2 linked regions of the Homo sapiens genome follow. The protein of the gene in region 2 interacts with the protein of the main gene of each other region in a biochemical or structural test. Each region holds a gene or a part of one and is shown on either strand. Other genes may lie near its edges.

Region 1 (7,633 bases), on a different chromosome or scaffold from region 2:
CCACGGGGATCCCGCCGGCCACAGCTGGGATAAGTTTTGTGTCAAGGCAAATAATAACAATAACAGATTATAAGCCATTAAATAAGAAACCATGAGCCTACACTGCTAAATAGACATGTTACTTATTTGTGACGGAGTCTCGCTCCGTCACCTAGTTTGCAGTGCAGTGGTGTGATCTTAGCTCACTGCAATCTCTGCCTCTGGGGTTCAAGTGATTCTCTTGCCTCAGCCTCCCGAGTAGCTGGGACTGCAGGTGCGCACCATCACGCCTATTTTTGTATTTTTAGTAGAGATGGGGTTTCACCATATTGGCCAGGCTGGTCTCGAATTCCTGACCTCAGGTGATCTGTTCACCTTGGCCTCCCAAAGTGCTGGGATTACAGGCGTGAGCCACTACGCCTGGCCTTATTTGTTCTTACGGCAGAAAGTCAACCAAAAAGTGGAGAAGAAATGCTGGAATTGAGAACACCACCACTGGACTATCATCCTAGAAATGAAGCGATTCAAGCAGGAATCACTGACAGATACCCAAAATGTGGGTCAGCTTGGTGCAAATGTATTTATGTGGTAACAAAGTATCTCTTTCAAGATACTGAATTACAACAGGAAAAGTTGTAACTTTTTACAACAGACACCACCTTCACTAAACGCAGGCTCTGGGACAGTCTCACCAGAGTGCACAGCTGCGATCTAACTGAGGGATGTCCTACTAAACCAGGCAATGATACAGAAAGAAAGAAAGACGAAGGAGCTGACTCTTGAGGGTTCAACCAGCGATGCCACGTGGGGTCCAGGGCTTGCTTTTGTTACAAAGGACTTTATTAGGACTATTAGTGCTATGTAAGAGCACGTCTTTGTTTTCAGGAAACTCAAGTATTTAGGGGTGAAGTGACATCACACCTGCAACTAACTCTCCAACTCCAGAAAAATGTGCGTGTGCATGGGGAAAGATAAGCAAACTCAGCAAAGCATTAACATTTGCGGAATCTGGGGTGAAGCTGGTGTGAGAATTCTGTGCACTGTTCTTGCAACTTTAAGGTCAAAAATTATGTCCCAAAAGAGCCAGAGTGGCTGGGTGTGGTGGCTCACGCCTGTAATCCCAGCACTTAGCGAGGCTGAGGCAGGATCACCTGAGGTCAGAAGTTCCAGACCAGCCTGGCCAACGTGGTGAAATCGTCTCTACTAAAAATACAAAAATTAGCCGGGTGTGGCTGGGAGTGATGGCTCACGCCTGTAATCCCAGCACTTTGGGAAGCCAAGGCAGGTGGGTCACCTGAGGTCAGGAGTTCGAGATGAGCCTGGCCAACATGGTAAAACCCTGCCTCTACTAAAAATACAAAAATTAGTTGGGCGCGGTGGCTCACGCCTGTAATCCCAACACTTCAGGAGGCCGAGGCAGGTGGATCACCTGAGGTCAGGAGTTCGAGACCAGCCTGGCCAACATGGTGAAACCCTGTCTCTACTAAAAATACAATAATTAGCTGGGCATGGTGGTGGGCACCTGTAATCCCAGCTACTCAGGAGGCCGAGGCAGGAGAATCGCTTGAACCCAGGAGGTGGAGGTTGCAGTGAACTGAGATTGCACCGCTGCACTCCAGCCTGGGTGACAACAGTGAAACTTCATCTCAAAACAAAAAACAAACAGCTTCAAAGGAACAAGTGTTGTTGTTTTGTCTCCTGTGCAGCCACAGGGGTGGGAGCCCCAGGCTGGAGTCCAGTGCAGTGCAGTCGTCAGCTGTGGCTGACGCTCTGCACCTGGTTCAGTCGCCCAGAGCCCAGACGCAGCCATCCTGGAGAACACGCACAGGTGGGGCTCTGGCAGCGGTTACTGAAACTGTGGCTGTAAAGCACAACGTCTGAGGAATGTAAAGAAGGAACAAGGGCAGCCCAGCCTGATTCCCAACACTGCACACATCCACAGAGCCGTGGCTGGAAAGCTTCAACACTGCCACTGTGGTCTAGAGCGAGTCATCCAACAAAACCAGTTCCCAGCACGTCTCAAAACCACGTGGCACCACGTGCACCACACCATTCAGACCCTACTGCCCTCTCTGCTGGGTAAACAGACCTGCAAGGAAAGTCCTTGCCTCAGAACCTCCACAGACCCCAGGGAGCCATGGTGTCAAATGCTTCCAGCCTGAAAACACTTTAACCCCCTGGTGGTATGCTCAGGACAACCAACCAACTGCTCCGGTGCATGCCCACCAGTGAACTGGAGAAGTCAACTGCTGCGGTGCAGGCCCACCAGTGAACTGGCGAAGCCAACTGCTGCGGTGCAGGCCCACCAGTGAACTGGAGAAGCCAACTGCTGCGGTGCAGGCCCACCAGTGAACTGGAGAAGCCAACTGCTGCGGTGCAGGCCCACCAGTGAACTGGAGAAGCCAACTGCTCCGGTGCAGGCCCACCAGTGAACTGACGAAGCCAACTGCTGCGGTGCAGGCCCACCAGTGAACTGGCGAAGCCAACTGCTGCGGTGCAGGCCCACCAGTGAACTGGAGAAGCCAACTGCTCCGGTGCAGGCCCACCAGTGAACTGACGAAGCCAACTGCTGCGGTGCAGGCCCACCAGTGAACTGGCGAAGCCAACTGCTGCGGTGCAGGCCCACCAGTGAACTGGAGAAGCCAACTGCTCTGGTGCAGGCCCACCAGTGAACTGACGAAGCCAACTGCTGCGGTGCATGCCCACCAGTGAACTGGAGAAGCCAACTGCTGCGGTGCAGGCCCACCAGTGAACTGACGAAGCCAACTGCTGCGGTGCAGGCCCACCAGTGAACTGGAGAAGCCAACTGCTGCGGTGCAGGCCCACCAGTGAACTGACGAAGCCAACTGCTGCGGTGCAGGCCCACCAGTGAACTGGAGAAGTCAACTGCTGCGGTGCAGGCCCACCAGTGAACTGGAGAAGCCAACTGCTGCGGTGCAGGCCCACCAGTGAACTGGAGAAGCCAACTGCTGCGGTGCAGGCCCACCAGTGAACTGGAGAAGCCAACTGCTGCGGTGCAGGCCCACCAGTGAACTGGCGAAGCCAACTGCTGCGGTGCAGGCCCACCAGTGAACTGACGAAGCCAACTGCTGCGGTGCAGGCCCACCAGTGAACTGGAGAAGCCAACTGCTGTGGTGCAGGCCCACCAGTGAACTGGAGAAGCCAACATGATGCTGGGTATCAACTCGCTAACTGCATCATTCCCGCCAGTCTATAGTCAGCACAAAAAATGCATCAAAATCGTACGACACCAGCATTCTTCACCATTTAAAGCACCGTAGGGAAATTACTGTCTTTTAAACGCTACTTCAAAAATGTTACAAATATTAAATGAGTTAAGTTTTAGCTCAAGTTCCTCTTAACATTGTAAGGAATTTTGCACATATGATGCTAGATGTATATTTAAAAACCTACCAAGACCATCTCTTCATAACCTTTAAAATGTGCATTTATCCTTTAAGAAATATCACCTGAATCTCTTCAAACTCATCAGTTCCATTCTCTCTACATTCTCTTTCTCCTGAAAATATAAAAAGCACTTTTTTCTGAGACAACTTACATCGCTTGTTTTCCGTTTTGTATTTGTGCACTTTTAAAACACACATAAAACTGAGAATTCATCCATTCCTCTGTACCCAGATACTAGATGATTTCACATAACCCACTTTAAAACTAACTTTAAAGAAACCATGAAAATGGAGACAAATCTGATAATGCACACAAAATTTCTGAAACCTACAAACCATTTCCAGGCAGACGTGCTTCAAAGTCCTTTATCTAAAAGATTAGATCGGAGATACCTAAAAACCCATGACAAAGGTAAATCACAGACGAACAAAACCAAGCAAGTAACAAGGCCCAGTGGTTTTCTGTTAGGTGAAAAGTGGGAAAAACAAAGCAAAACGTTTGAAGTGCAACTTACCCACGTTTAATGGGCTGACAAAGTGACAGCCCCCCAAATTTTAGGCACAAATATCTTTTTTAAAGTATCATCCTTTAAATAGTGCAGGCGTCAACAGGGAAGAATAAAAGTATTCTAAATAATTATTAGAATTGTTAATAATAAAACTATTCTAAAAGAATTACCAATTCATCAAGATTCTTGGTACCAGGATGAAAACGAAATGTCCTTATTTCCAGGACCGGACCCTTAGGTGACGACGTTCGTGCACTGACTGAAGCACATTTAGAATTTCAGAGGCTTCTACTCCCTCATCACAGAACAATAAATTCGGGGACTAATCTTAGGTTGCAGCCTATTCTAACTGTATTACTATTTCTCAGAGATTCTCATTCCAAAATCTACAAAGCAATAAAGACAGCAATACCGTTGCTGTTGGAATGATCTTCATTTTATTCAGCAATGTTTTTCTGCTTCTCTGTGGCACTCTCACACCCTGCGCTGGTGAATGCAGATGCCCTTCCTGTGGACACGCTAAAGGCACAGGTACAGTCTGTCAGACGTCATCAACCCTCGCACACGGCCTCCGCCTGTTAGTTCTCACCAGTCACTGCAGGCTCCCAGATCATTTTAGGTACCTTCCCCTTTCTGTGGCGATTTAAATACCTCCCTGTGAGTGACTGGGAAAAAGCCAAAGCAAAGAAATCTGCAGGAAAAAAAAGACTTAGTTTCTGAAAGATGGTGACCTGTCAGAATATTTTCTATTAAAATAATTGTACTCCACATAAATATTATAAAAGCAGACAAACACTATTGTTCTAGCTACTCCCCCCACACTAGGAATCTCCAGGGCTGAAACCTGGTCTACAGAGAGCAGCACGCAGAGAACCAAGGACAGAGGCTCTCTCAAGGGCCTGAGCACACCACGAGGCATCTGCACCGTCCTCCTCACCAGGACCTCACACCCCGTAAGGAGCACCGCAGAGAAACTGGGAGTAGAGACCACGAGGTCCCTGCACCGTCCTCCTCACCAGGACCTCACACCCCGTAAGGAGCACCGCAGAGAAACCGGGAGTAGAGACCACGAGGTCCCTGCACCGTCCTCCTCACCAGGACCTCACACCCTGTAAGGGGCAGGGCAGGTCCAAACTTCTTGGAACCTCAGTTTCTTTCCAATGGAGTGAGGAGGTTCTTACTTCTGCCAGATAGGATGAAGCCCGACAAAAACATACAATCTTATTAAAGATCAAAACGACAATCTAGTGACTATTGTAACTTCACCCAAATGCAGTGTTTTTAAGTTCCCAGAATGGTTCTTTGTCTAAAAATAACCACTGATGTGGTTAGGATAAATGTTGCTGGTAACAACAATGCAGGCAACGAGGGCACGGACCCACCTTGCCTGGTGACAACAACGCAGGCAACGAGGGCACGGACCCACCTTGCCTGGTGACAACAATGAAGGTAACAAGAGCAGGGACCCACCTTGCCTGGTGACAACAATGCAGGCAACGAGGGCACGGACCCACCCTGCCTGGCTGGTGCTGGTGCTTTTCACAGGTTCACTCACACCTGCTATTTATAGAGGGAGGTTTCACAGGGCCACAGGTTCCATTACCTCTCTCCGCAGTGCTCCGCCTCAGTAACCGACACTAAGCTACACAAGGCTCACTCACACATACCCACGTGGGATTCTTCTTTCTTTGTTAAAATTCCATGCTATAAAGAACTGTTTAGACTGACGTTCTAATCTACGCTCTGGAGCAGCGCGTAGTCTGCTCCTCGGCACTGTGAGCATGCTGGCTGCACATGTACAAGCAACATCCACACCTCTCAGTTTCTCAAACACAGTCTCAGCTAAACAAGTTACTGTCAAGCAGCCGGCGGCCAGTGGGGTCAAGAGCCACCTTCACTAAGGTGATGGCACACAAGCGACGCTTGAGCTTAGCACACTCAGGCTGCTGCCGCTGTCTGCTCTCTGCAAGCTCCAGTTCAGCAGATTTAATGCTATGTTTTCAAAGATACTTCCCGTTATTCCTGAAAAATAAGTATTTTTATAAGCCCTGTGAAAGGATCAAGATAAAGGAACAACAGTGGGTAGGCACCCCCCGGTCCCAAAACCGTCCTGGGCCAGAAGCTAATTCATAACACCTGCAGGGTGAACACAGCGACCAAGCCTCAAGAGACAGGCTGTCCTCCCCGTAAATCCCACACCTCGTCAGCAATGTCCTCAACAACACCCTCGGGAAATCTGATTTCCCAAGACTTTCTCCAAAGGCCCCTCACCAAGGAGCCACCAGGGCACGCAGGCAACCAGTAAGCCCTTGAGGGACCAAAACTGTGTGGCCACATCAAGGGCTTCGCCCAAGCCAGAATTCCAACGTCAGATCGCCTGCGCATTCCTCAGGCAGCCGCCCTGAAACCCCGTTTCTGACACCTGAGTTTCTGATCCATCAGCTGGGCAGGACCTGCTCTCTCTCACCAAGAGCCACGGGGTTCCATTGGTGCTGGGAGGTCCCTGTTAAAAGGGACCTCCTTTCAGCACAAGCCCAGGAGCAGATTCTGCACCTCCCCTGCCCTCACACGCAGATGAGCTGAAGCCAGGGTTGGAGCCTCCACAAAAGCAGTTGTGGATTCTGCCCATGCTTGTCTATACAAGTGCGTGTTATTTGCATAATCTGAAAGGGGTACTCTAAGGATCAATACACGATAATCAGTCTATAAACATTTAAAGCAAACTTCAACCAAATGCTTGCTCTCCCAGATAAAGATCTCAGGAATCTGTAACTTCAAGAGAACTTTTAGAGGTGGTCAAGATAAGTCAATTATAAAACAGCCCACGTGCAATTCTGGGAACTTGCTTAGTAAAAATCAAACACCTGGGCTGGTGAGCAGAGTCAATGACGGTTGAAGGCAGTTCCTCTTCCCTGATGTCTTCACCTTCCAGCCTCCAAGTGGTGGGACACCGCAGAAGAGAACCGCGGAGCTGTTGCTGGAAATGACCACACCAGCAATCAGAGAAAAAAAGAAAAACAGAGGAAAAACCTTTTAAGTGAAAGTGACTCAGGCTCTCTAGAGGAAGGCAGATGCTCTTCACCAACCGACGTCCCAGAGGCGTCGCAGGGATGAGAACTAAACTCACACCTATCACCTTCCAACATCAGGATGGAATTATGCCCAATATTCTCTACTTCATCACAAAGCGGCACAATCTATTATGGAAAGACTTCCATATTTAATCAGTCCCTCATTCTCACGGGGGACGGGCTGCAGGACTCCTTCAGATACCAAATTCCACATCCACAGATACTCAGGTCCCGCAGTCAACCTGGAGAACCCACTGATCCAGAAAGTCAGCGCTCTGTATAAACAGGCTGGGCTCCACACCCAGCAAACAGTGTTGGGCGTGGAACCCATGGATGCGAACAGCAGACGATTTACTGAAAAACATCTACATAAAGGTGGCCCTCGCAGACCAAAGCAAGTTGTTCGAGGGTTAGCTGTAAATTGTGTATAAAGAGCTGCTGAGCTGGAACTCAACGTCCTGGAGAAATCCATCACTGTTGGCTTTAAGCAAAAGCTGCGGAGATTTCTACCTGCAACTCTCTATGGAGAGACGTCAGCAAAGCCACCACAAGTCCACACTGCAGGGCGCTACTCCCATCACAGGGGTGCTGCCAGAGAAACGCACTTGTAACCCACCCTGTTCACAAAATCTGTCAACAAGTGACTGAATCTAGTAATTTTCAACTG
Region 2 (8,265 bases):
ATTAGCTGGGTGTGGTGGCGGGCGCCTGTAGTCCCAGCTACTCGGGAGGCTGAGGCAGGAGAATGGCATGAACCTGGGAGGCGGAGCTTTCAGTGAGCCGAGATCGCGCCACTGCACTCCAGCCTGGGTGAGAGTGTGAGACTCCATCTCAAAAAAAAAAAAAAAAAAAAGAGATTAACTAAGTGTCTAGCACCTTTTATTAAAGATCTGAATAGGAAACATTTGTCATCTATTGTCTCTAAGGGCAGCCACTATAAGACTTCAAATACCCTGGGTCTCCACAATCTTTTATCTTAACCTGGACATTTCCTTTCTATCAATCCAGGTCTTTAGACAAACTCAACCAATTGTAAACCAGAAAATGTCTAAATTTACCTATAGCCTTGAACCCTGCCCCCTACCCCGCTTTGAGTTGTCCTGCCTTTCTGGACCAAACCAATGTATTTCTTAAATGTATTTGATTGCTGTCTCATGCATTCCTAAAACATATAAAACCAAGCTGCACCCTGACCGCCTTGGGCACGTGTCCTCAGAACCTCCTGAGGGCCGTTTGCTGTGTCACGGGCCATGGTCATTCACATTTGGCTTAGGATAAATCTCTTCAAATATTTTACAGAGTTTGACTCTCTTTGTTGACTACTAGGACCAGCAACCTGGGAAAGTGATGGCTCATCAGACTGGACTCAGCTGCCAGGGGAGTGGGCCTGCCACTGTGAGCCTATCTGAGCTGGGGGTGGGTCAGGGGACTGAGTAGCTCTATATGATGAGTGAGAGTTGGCGGGAAGAATCTCACTTTTTGTATTTTGGCAAGAATTTGAAATCTCAGGGGTCTGAGTCATGCTGTAGTCTCACCACAGGCCTCAGGGGAGTCAACTTCTGACCTGGAGGCCTGGTCTGGGTTTGTGGTGTCTGAGTCATAGTTCGTGTGATAAAAGTACGTGCTCTGGTGTGGAAAGCAGGCAGAGGCTTTTTCACTCCATTCTGTCTCACTGACAATGAAAATGCTAGCTGTGACCCACCACATGGGTTTCATGACCCACGAATGGACCAGGCAGCTGTTTAGAAAACACTGCGGCTCAATTTCTGCCCTCTCTGAGGGGTGTTCTAGAAATCTGTATGGCTGCTGGATTGGAAAGAAAAGAGCAATTGCATGAGGAATTGGGAAGTGAGGACAAACAGAGAAGAAGCCTCAGCTACTATCTCTAAAATATTATCTGAGAAAGAAAACAAACAAACAAACAACAAACACATTTCTTTTCCTGAGGAAGGTGAGCCTTTAAATTATCAGGCCCAGAGAACATTTAGAACAGAACAGCAGTCATGGCTCACTTCCCCTTCAGCTAAGTGGTTACCTCTTGAAGCCACTTGCTATGTGGCTGTAGAATAACTGAGGCCAATTAGCCATAAGATGCCATCCACCCTATAGTTCAACACTGTGTGGGCAATCACTAACCAATGTTATTTCTGTAAACCAATGAGGATTCCTGACAACTCTGCAATCGCCCCATCTCCTGAGTTGTTCTTTTTTCTTTAAAAACTTGAGCCTCCTTTTTGTTCTTGGAGCACTCCCCATGGCAACTTAGAAGTGTGTCCTGGGCTACAGTCCTCAACCTGGGCACAAATAAACTCTCTATGTTAATTTTGTCTCATCTTTCTTTTAGGTAGACACATTAGCTTTGGGAGAATTTCAAAGAGTTTGAAGTTACTTAGATTTGGGAAACCTGAAGGGCAGTGGTGTGTCACTATCTGGTGTGGCCTGGCCTTCAGCCTCTCAGCCCCTTCCCTCCCCACCTCTCAGAGCTCAGGGCCAACTGCATCTCTGAAAGAGCCCAAAGACCTTGTTGAGGAGCAGGGGGATCCTGGCTGAGCCTGCAAGCCCTGGGTCTCTTCCAGACTTTCCTGCCTCTAGCAGCTGCTGCTCTAGGTGGCCATTGGTGGGCTGCATTTGCTCTCTGCTTGCAAACATTGATGACACAGGTATTTTGGGTGTGGTTTAGTAGTGGCCCGACACAATTTTGTTTCCAGTTTGTCACACTGACAAGGTTTTAACCTGACAAATGTTAAACACAAATTATAGGAGGCCATTGTTTTAGACTAAGCTCTTGCACTAGGCCCCAAAAGACAAGACTAAAAATAAAAATAAAGTCACCCATGCTAACGTTTCAGGTCACCAAACTTACTGGAAAGGCGTCCTGATCCTGAGCCCTAGAGAAAGTTCTTGGATCTCCTACAAGAAAGAATTTGGGGTGAGTCCACAGAGAACAGTAAAAGGAAGTTTATTAAGAAAGGAAGGGAATAAAAGAGTGGCTACTCCATAGGCAGAGCATCCCCAAGGGCTGCTGGTGGGTATTTTTTATGATTACTCTTGAATATGTGCTAAGCAAGGGGTGGATTATTCCTGAGTTTTCCAAGAAAGGGGTGAGTTATTTGGTTATTCCCCCTTCCCTTTTACAAGGGAACCCTTAATCCTAAGGGTTGTAGAGTCAGGAAATATGTCAGCAGGAGTCGACTCAGAGACTCTTCATCTTGAATAGGAGCTGGGTAAAATGAGGCTGAGATCTGCTGGAGTGCATTCCCAGGAGGTTAGGCATCCTTAGTCACAGGATGAAATAGAAGGTTGGCAGGTGGTATCACAAGATACAGGTTACAAAGACCTTGCTGATGAAACAGGATGCAGTAAAGAAGCCAGCCAAAACTGGCCAAAACCTGCCAAAAACCAGCAAGGTGAGGAAAACTACCTCTGGTCTTCCTCATTGCTCATTATTCGCTAATTACAATGCATTCTCATGCTAAACGACACTCCTACCAGCACCATGACAGTTTATAAATACCATGGCAACATTTAGAAGTTACCCTATATGTTCTAAAAGGAAGAATTCCTAGAAAACTCATGAATAATCCACCCTTATTTAGTATATGATCAAGAAATAACCATAAAAATAGCCAACCAGCAGCCCTAGAGGCTGCCCTGCCCATGGAATTGCCATTCTTTTATTCCTTTACTTTCTCAATAAGCTTGCTTCTTTCACTTTACTCTGTGGACTCACCCTGGCCCCGAATTCTTTCTTGCACAAGATCCAAGAACATTCTCTTGGGGTCTGGATTGGGACCCTTTTCCGGTAACAAAACTAAAACTAAGTTGTTAATCTACCTTCAGAGAGAGAGAATAGCAACTTCCTAACCAGGCCAGTTTCAGTCTTCAGTCTGAGGCAGCAAAATAGGGTCTGGAGGCAGGGAACATAAGGCCGATTCACACTTTAGCTATGACAGGAAATAGCCTCTGCGTAGGCCAAGTAAATGACTTTGTAACTTTGCATCATCCCTTTCATTTACATAGTGTGTGCCCCAAGCGGAGGACATTGAAACTCCCCAAAATTCTGGAATGGGGCCTTTGAGCCCCTACGCTCAGGCCCGCTCCCACACTGTGGAGTGTACTTTCATTTACCTTTTTTTTTTGAGATGGCGTCTCACTGTGTCACCAAGGCTGGAATGCAGTGGCATGATCTCAGCTCACTGCAACCTCTGCCACCCAGGTTCAAGTGGTTCTCCTGCCTCAGCCTCCCAAGTAGCTGGAATTACAGGCACCTGCCACTGTGACCGGCTAGGTTTTTTTTTTTGTTTTTTTTTTTTTTTTACTTTTAGTAGAGACGGGGTTTCACCATCTTGGTTAGGCTGGTCTTGAACTCCTGACTTTGTAATCCACCCGCCTCGGCCTCCCAAAGTGCTGGGATTACAGGTGTGAGCCACTGCGCCTGGCCGTACTTTCATTTTCAATAAAACCCTTAATTCCTTCCTTGATTTGTTTGTGTGTTTCACTCTTGTCACCCAGTATGGAGTGCAATGGCGCGATCTCGGCTCACTGCATCCTTCGCTGGGTTCAAGCAATTCTCCTGCCTCGGCCTGCCTAGTACCTGGGATTACAGGCACGCGACACCACGTCCAGCTAATTTTTTGTATTTTTAGTAGTGACGGGGTTTCACCATGTTGGGCAGGCTGGTCTCGAACTCCTGACCTCAGGTGATCCATCCGCCTCGGCCTTCCAAAGTGCTGGGATTACAGGCGTGAGCCACCACTCCCGGCCCAACCCCATGTTTTCTCAGGAACTGGAGTTCCCTTTAGGAAGCAAGTAACAGAGGTGCTGGGCTGCCCGGGCCTCTAGGTCGTCTTCTTTCCCAGGCTCTGTGCTCTCACCAGAGTGCGCGTTCGGGAAGCAGGGAGAGGACCAGGAAAGACGCCTGAGACGGAGAGTGGGCACCGGCCGGGGGCAGGCAGGTCCGGCCCCTGGGGGTCAGAGTGCAGCGCCGGTTTGAGGCAGTTCGGCCACTTAGCTGCGACTCGAAGTGAATGAGTCACTTCCCCTCCTCGGGCGAGCTCCTGGCTTTGCCCCAGCAAGCGGGAACTCCCAGGATCAGGAAGGTCCCAGAGAAACTCCCCAGGGGGGAAGCCGAGGCCGTCCAGAGAGATCCAGGGTACACACAGTGACAGTGCCAGCTCCACATTCCCGACCACCGGGCCAGGGCTGGTTCCACGCTGTCATTTCTCTCCGCTGGCCCCAGCCGCGGGGCCACCGCCAGACAGACAGACCGGGGATCCTGCCTGGCGGCGTGACCTTGGGTTAGTCCTAGAGCCGCTTCTAGCCCGGTTTCCTCCGCCCCAGGTTAGGACCACGTGGGTAAGAAGATTTCCTCTGTAGTAGGGGCTGTTTAATGAGTAACAGAACTGGCTGCTGGTTCTTTACAATTGCCCAGCTGCTCTGCAGAGGCGAGAAGCAATTGCGGGCTGAGCCTCCCGGGACCTTCGCGGGAGGGTGGAGAGGAGGAAGGCGGGGGAGGCGGGGCCAGAGGGGCAGAGGAAGGTGGGGGCGGGCGGGGCTTGTCTGCGGGATGGCCCAGGATGCGGTCAGCTGAGTTCGCCGGCCCAGGGCAGGCGGGGCCCGAGCCTAGCGGTAACCCCCGGGCAGGGCGGGGCCGCTCGCAGACTCCATATGAGATTCACCTCGCAGGTGGTTCCCTCATTCGAGTGCTCCGGCGCACAGACCCGCGCCCCGCCGTCTGCGAGCCTCCCGAGAGCCGTCCCTTCGTCCGGCCCTGGAGCATTGCGTTTGTCGCCGGTGTCGCAGTGCGAGGATGGCGCCGCGGGTGTAGCGGCTCTCTGCGCAGGCCGAGTGGTGAGTCGCCCGCGGCCCGGCTCCCGCCGTTCTCTCTTCCCAGGGGTCTAGCCCGTCCCCTGCCTTGGCCACGTGCCCATTTACCTGTAGGGGCGGTGACGGAGGCTCTGGTGCACCTTGGCTGTGAGCTGCAGAGGAGCAGAGAGCGGCCCGGCGCGGCTGCGCGGGGAGGCGGGCGCGCGGCCGGGAGGTTCTGGGGCTGGTGTGTGCGGAGCGAGGTGGGCGTGGGGGAAGCGCGCGGGCGGGATGTGCTTCCTCGGGTCCACCCCGTGCCTACCTCTCCCACGTCCCGGCGACGGAGCGCGCGGGGCTCTGGGCGGGGAGCCCACCGGGCCGAGGCGCAGCGAGGGTGAAGCCAGAGCCGGCAGGGTCAGGTCCCGCAGGGCGCAGGCGGGCGCTTCTCGCAGCCCAAACCCGGGCGGGGAGTGCGGGAACCCCTAGAACTATGCTGGGAGCCCCAGATAAGAGGAAGGAGATGGTGACTTAAGTGACGAAGTGATGTTTTGTCCCCACCGCCTTTTAAAGGGAGAAGGGGGTAAAATTTCATTTGGAGGATGATTGTTACGCGAGCTTTCAGAGTTCAGATGGCGTCAAGTGGCCATCGAGTCAACATTTAACAAAATGTTACCGCATAAAATATTGTCATCGAGTTATCTGGCAGCTCCGCAGAGAAACTTCACAGGCATATGCGTTATATGACATAATTTGCATGGGGAAGGGGGTCCCTTCACGATTCTTTTATATGGCAACCTGTTCTTGGACCTGGCAGGGCCCAGAGAAGCGAGGAACTCCGCAGCTCGTCGACACGTCTCGTCTCCTGTCCCAATTCAGGGCTTGGTGAGGTGACTCGCGGTCGCGGGTGACTCGCCGGCAGGACACTGCCTGGAACGCCTGGAGCGCCTCCCACTGCAGACGTCTGTCCGCCTCCAGCCGCTCTCCTCTGACGGTCAGTTTCAAAGAAACACAGTCTGGGATCCGGAGTAGAAAGAGGCCGTTTCCCGTGAAGGCCATAGAGGCAGTTTCCAGGCGCCTGGGTGACCTGTCTCTGCACTTCCCTCTCTGCTTCTCCATCCCTGTTTCCTTTCCCCACTGTCCCCTGCCTGGCCTTTCTTTGGCTCATTTTCTGCCTTCCTGGGGTCTTCTGGTTAAAAAGACCATTGGTTCCATTCATTGGCTGTAACCGCGGGTCTTTAAAAAACTTTGTGACTTCCTTGAATAGAAAGAATGTCTTACTCTGGATTTCTACAAGCGCTGCTGAGCCATTCCCAGGGCAGGCCTTTGTCTCTCCCGCCTTTCAGTTTGTTTGCCCATCTGCATTTTGGCCCAAGCTTTCCCCATTTCTCAGCTGCTCTTACATTATTTCTTTTTTCAGAGGCTACCCTGACCTTCTAGTCCTCTGCATTAAACCTCATCACCGCAGACCGTTTTAATTCAGCACAGGTGTATCGAGCACAAATTATATTCTTGGTTCCAATACTTTCAGCACTGGTGGGCATTCATGTTTCATTTAAGAAGGATAAATTAGTGTTTCTTTACATGGGCTTTTTGTCAAAGTGGAATTTTGTTGACTTTACTGATCTTAAAATTAACGCAAACTTATTGTAAAAACAAACAAACAAAAAAACCCAAAAACCAAAAATCAAATATATAACAGAAAATGAAACTTCTAGGTTTTCCTCTTCCCTAAAGATAAACAACAAACATTCTTCTTCCTTCTCCTCTCTCTCTCACACACATTTGCTTTTGAAATATGTTCATTCAAAAAAGTATTTTAAATGTTTACAAGCTAAGTTATTTATGCAAGTAACTTACCAATCTGATTTGAGTTTAACGGGTTAAAACTAAAAAAAAAAATCAAAAACATCTTCAGTTTTTTTTTTTTTTTAAGTAAGATGGATCTGGCTGGTAATAGGTAGAGAGCCCCAGGTGATCACCGAAAAGACTCTTCCTTGGGGAGCCAAATCCTAAGCCAGGTTTAGGATTTCCCTGGGAGGTAGAATTTGCAGCCCAGGTAAAACCAGCAAAACTCTCCTGTTATGTGGGGAGGGGAGCGAAGAGCATGGCTTTCTAGAGAGGTGAGAGAAGACTTGTTGAGAAACTGAATTTCATTTCCTTACGGAAGTTGGAGAACATTGTGGTACAATGTTAGGAGAAAGGTTTTCTAAAATCAGTGCAGTCTGACATCTTCAACACCAGGGTCTTTTCCACTGGAGCACTGCAGACATCTGCAACTTTCTCTGCCTACGTGGGTGTGGTTAAATAGACCCTCCCTGAGTGCAGGGCTGAAAAGTGGAGAGAAGTTAGTTCTTGGGACACTCACACCCAGGAGGGGGGATCCTGCAGGTACTAAGATTGCAAAGGGAAAGAGAGAGTGAGGCTGGTCCTGGAGCCCACTAGGAAGGAGCCAGCGGAAAGCAGTGACTGGACAAGGGAACTGATTTCTCTGCTGATGTGGCCTTGGTTTCTCTGGTTCAGAGTAAAGAAAAGCAACCAAACCTAGAGAGAAACATCCTTACTCTACAAGGCCAGACGGGAAGTTCTGTCTTTGGCTTGGTTTCCTTTTCTACAAACGGGGTTGGATTCTCTCTGGAGAGCTTTCCGGGGGCCACTCAGCAGTCTCTGATTCAGTGGGATGTTCTCAGCTGCTGGCCCAAGGGAGCTCACCTCTTAGCTCTTCCCCTGCCTGGTTCACTGGGGGGCTGCTCCCTCCCATTAGCTCCCTACCCCTAAAGACAAAAATAGCAGCCTGGAGGGGGCAGAGTTTTAGGGGAGGTTGTAAGAGGGCACATTCTTCAGAGGAGCCACTCTTACGGGGGAATGTTCCTGCCCCACAGAAACTGGCCCTGGGGATCAGGACTCTGCCTGACCCTAAACCCTACTTCTTCCCTCAGTCGGTAGGTCTGCTTAATGGATCCTGAAGAAGGCCTGAAATCATGACCAGACCCCTACGCCCCGGGATCCTCCTGTAGTGCCTTTTGATAAGAAGCACTGCCCTGGCTTCTCTCTCCTCCTTCCACATGTGTAGGGAGAGGTAGCTCTGCCTATTCATGAAGCTTCATCCCTACACTGTCCTTCATTTGGCCCCTGGTGAACCGGGG

What was found.
Region 1: of the proteins of UPP1 (region 2) and CTDP1, one has a biochemical effect on the other in vitro, tested with the Homo sapiens proteins (one study listed by BioGRID).

The regions. Positions count from the first base shown.
Region 1 is NC_000018.10:79,682,276-79,689,908, reverse strand, and holds part of CTDP1 (RNA polymerase II subunit A C-terminal domain phosphatase), read right to left. Parts: intron 1-7,633. UniProt on the Homo sapiens protein: Processively dephosphorylates 'Ser-2' and 'Ser-5' of the heptad repeats YSPTSPS in the C-terminal domain of the largest RNA polymerase II subunit. This promotes the activity of RNA polymerase II.
Region 2 is NC_000007.14:48,084,252-48,092,516, forward strand, and holds the start of UPP1 (uridine phosphorylase 1), read left to right. Parts: upstream 1-5,013; 5' UTR 5,014-5,167; intron 5,168-5,936; 5' UTR 5,937-6,113; intron 6,114-8,265. UniProt on the Homo sapiens protein: Catalyzes the reversible phosphorylytic cleavage of uridine to uracil and ribose-1-phosphate which can then be utilized as carbon and energy sources or in the rescue of pyrimidine bases for nucleotide synthesis.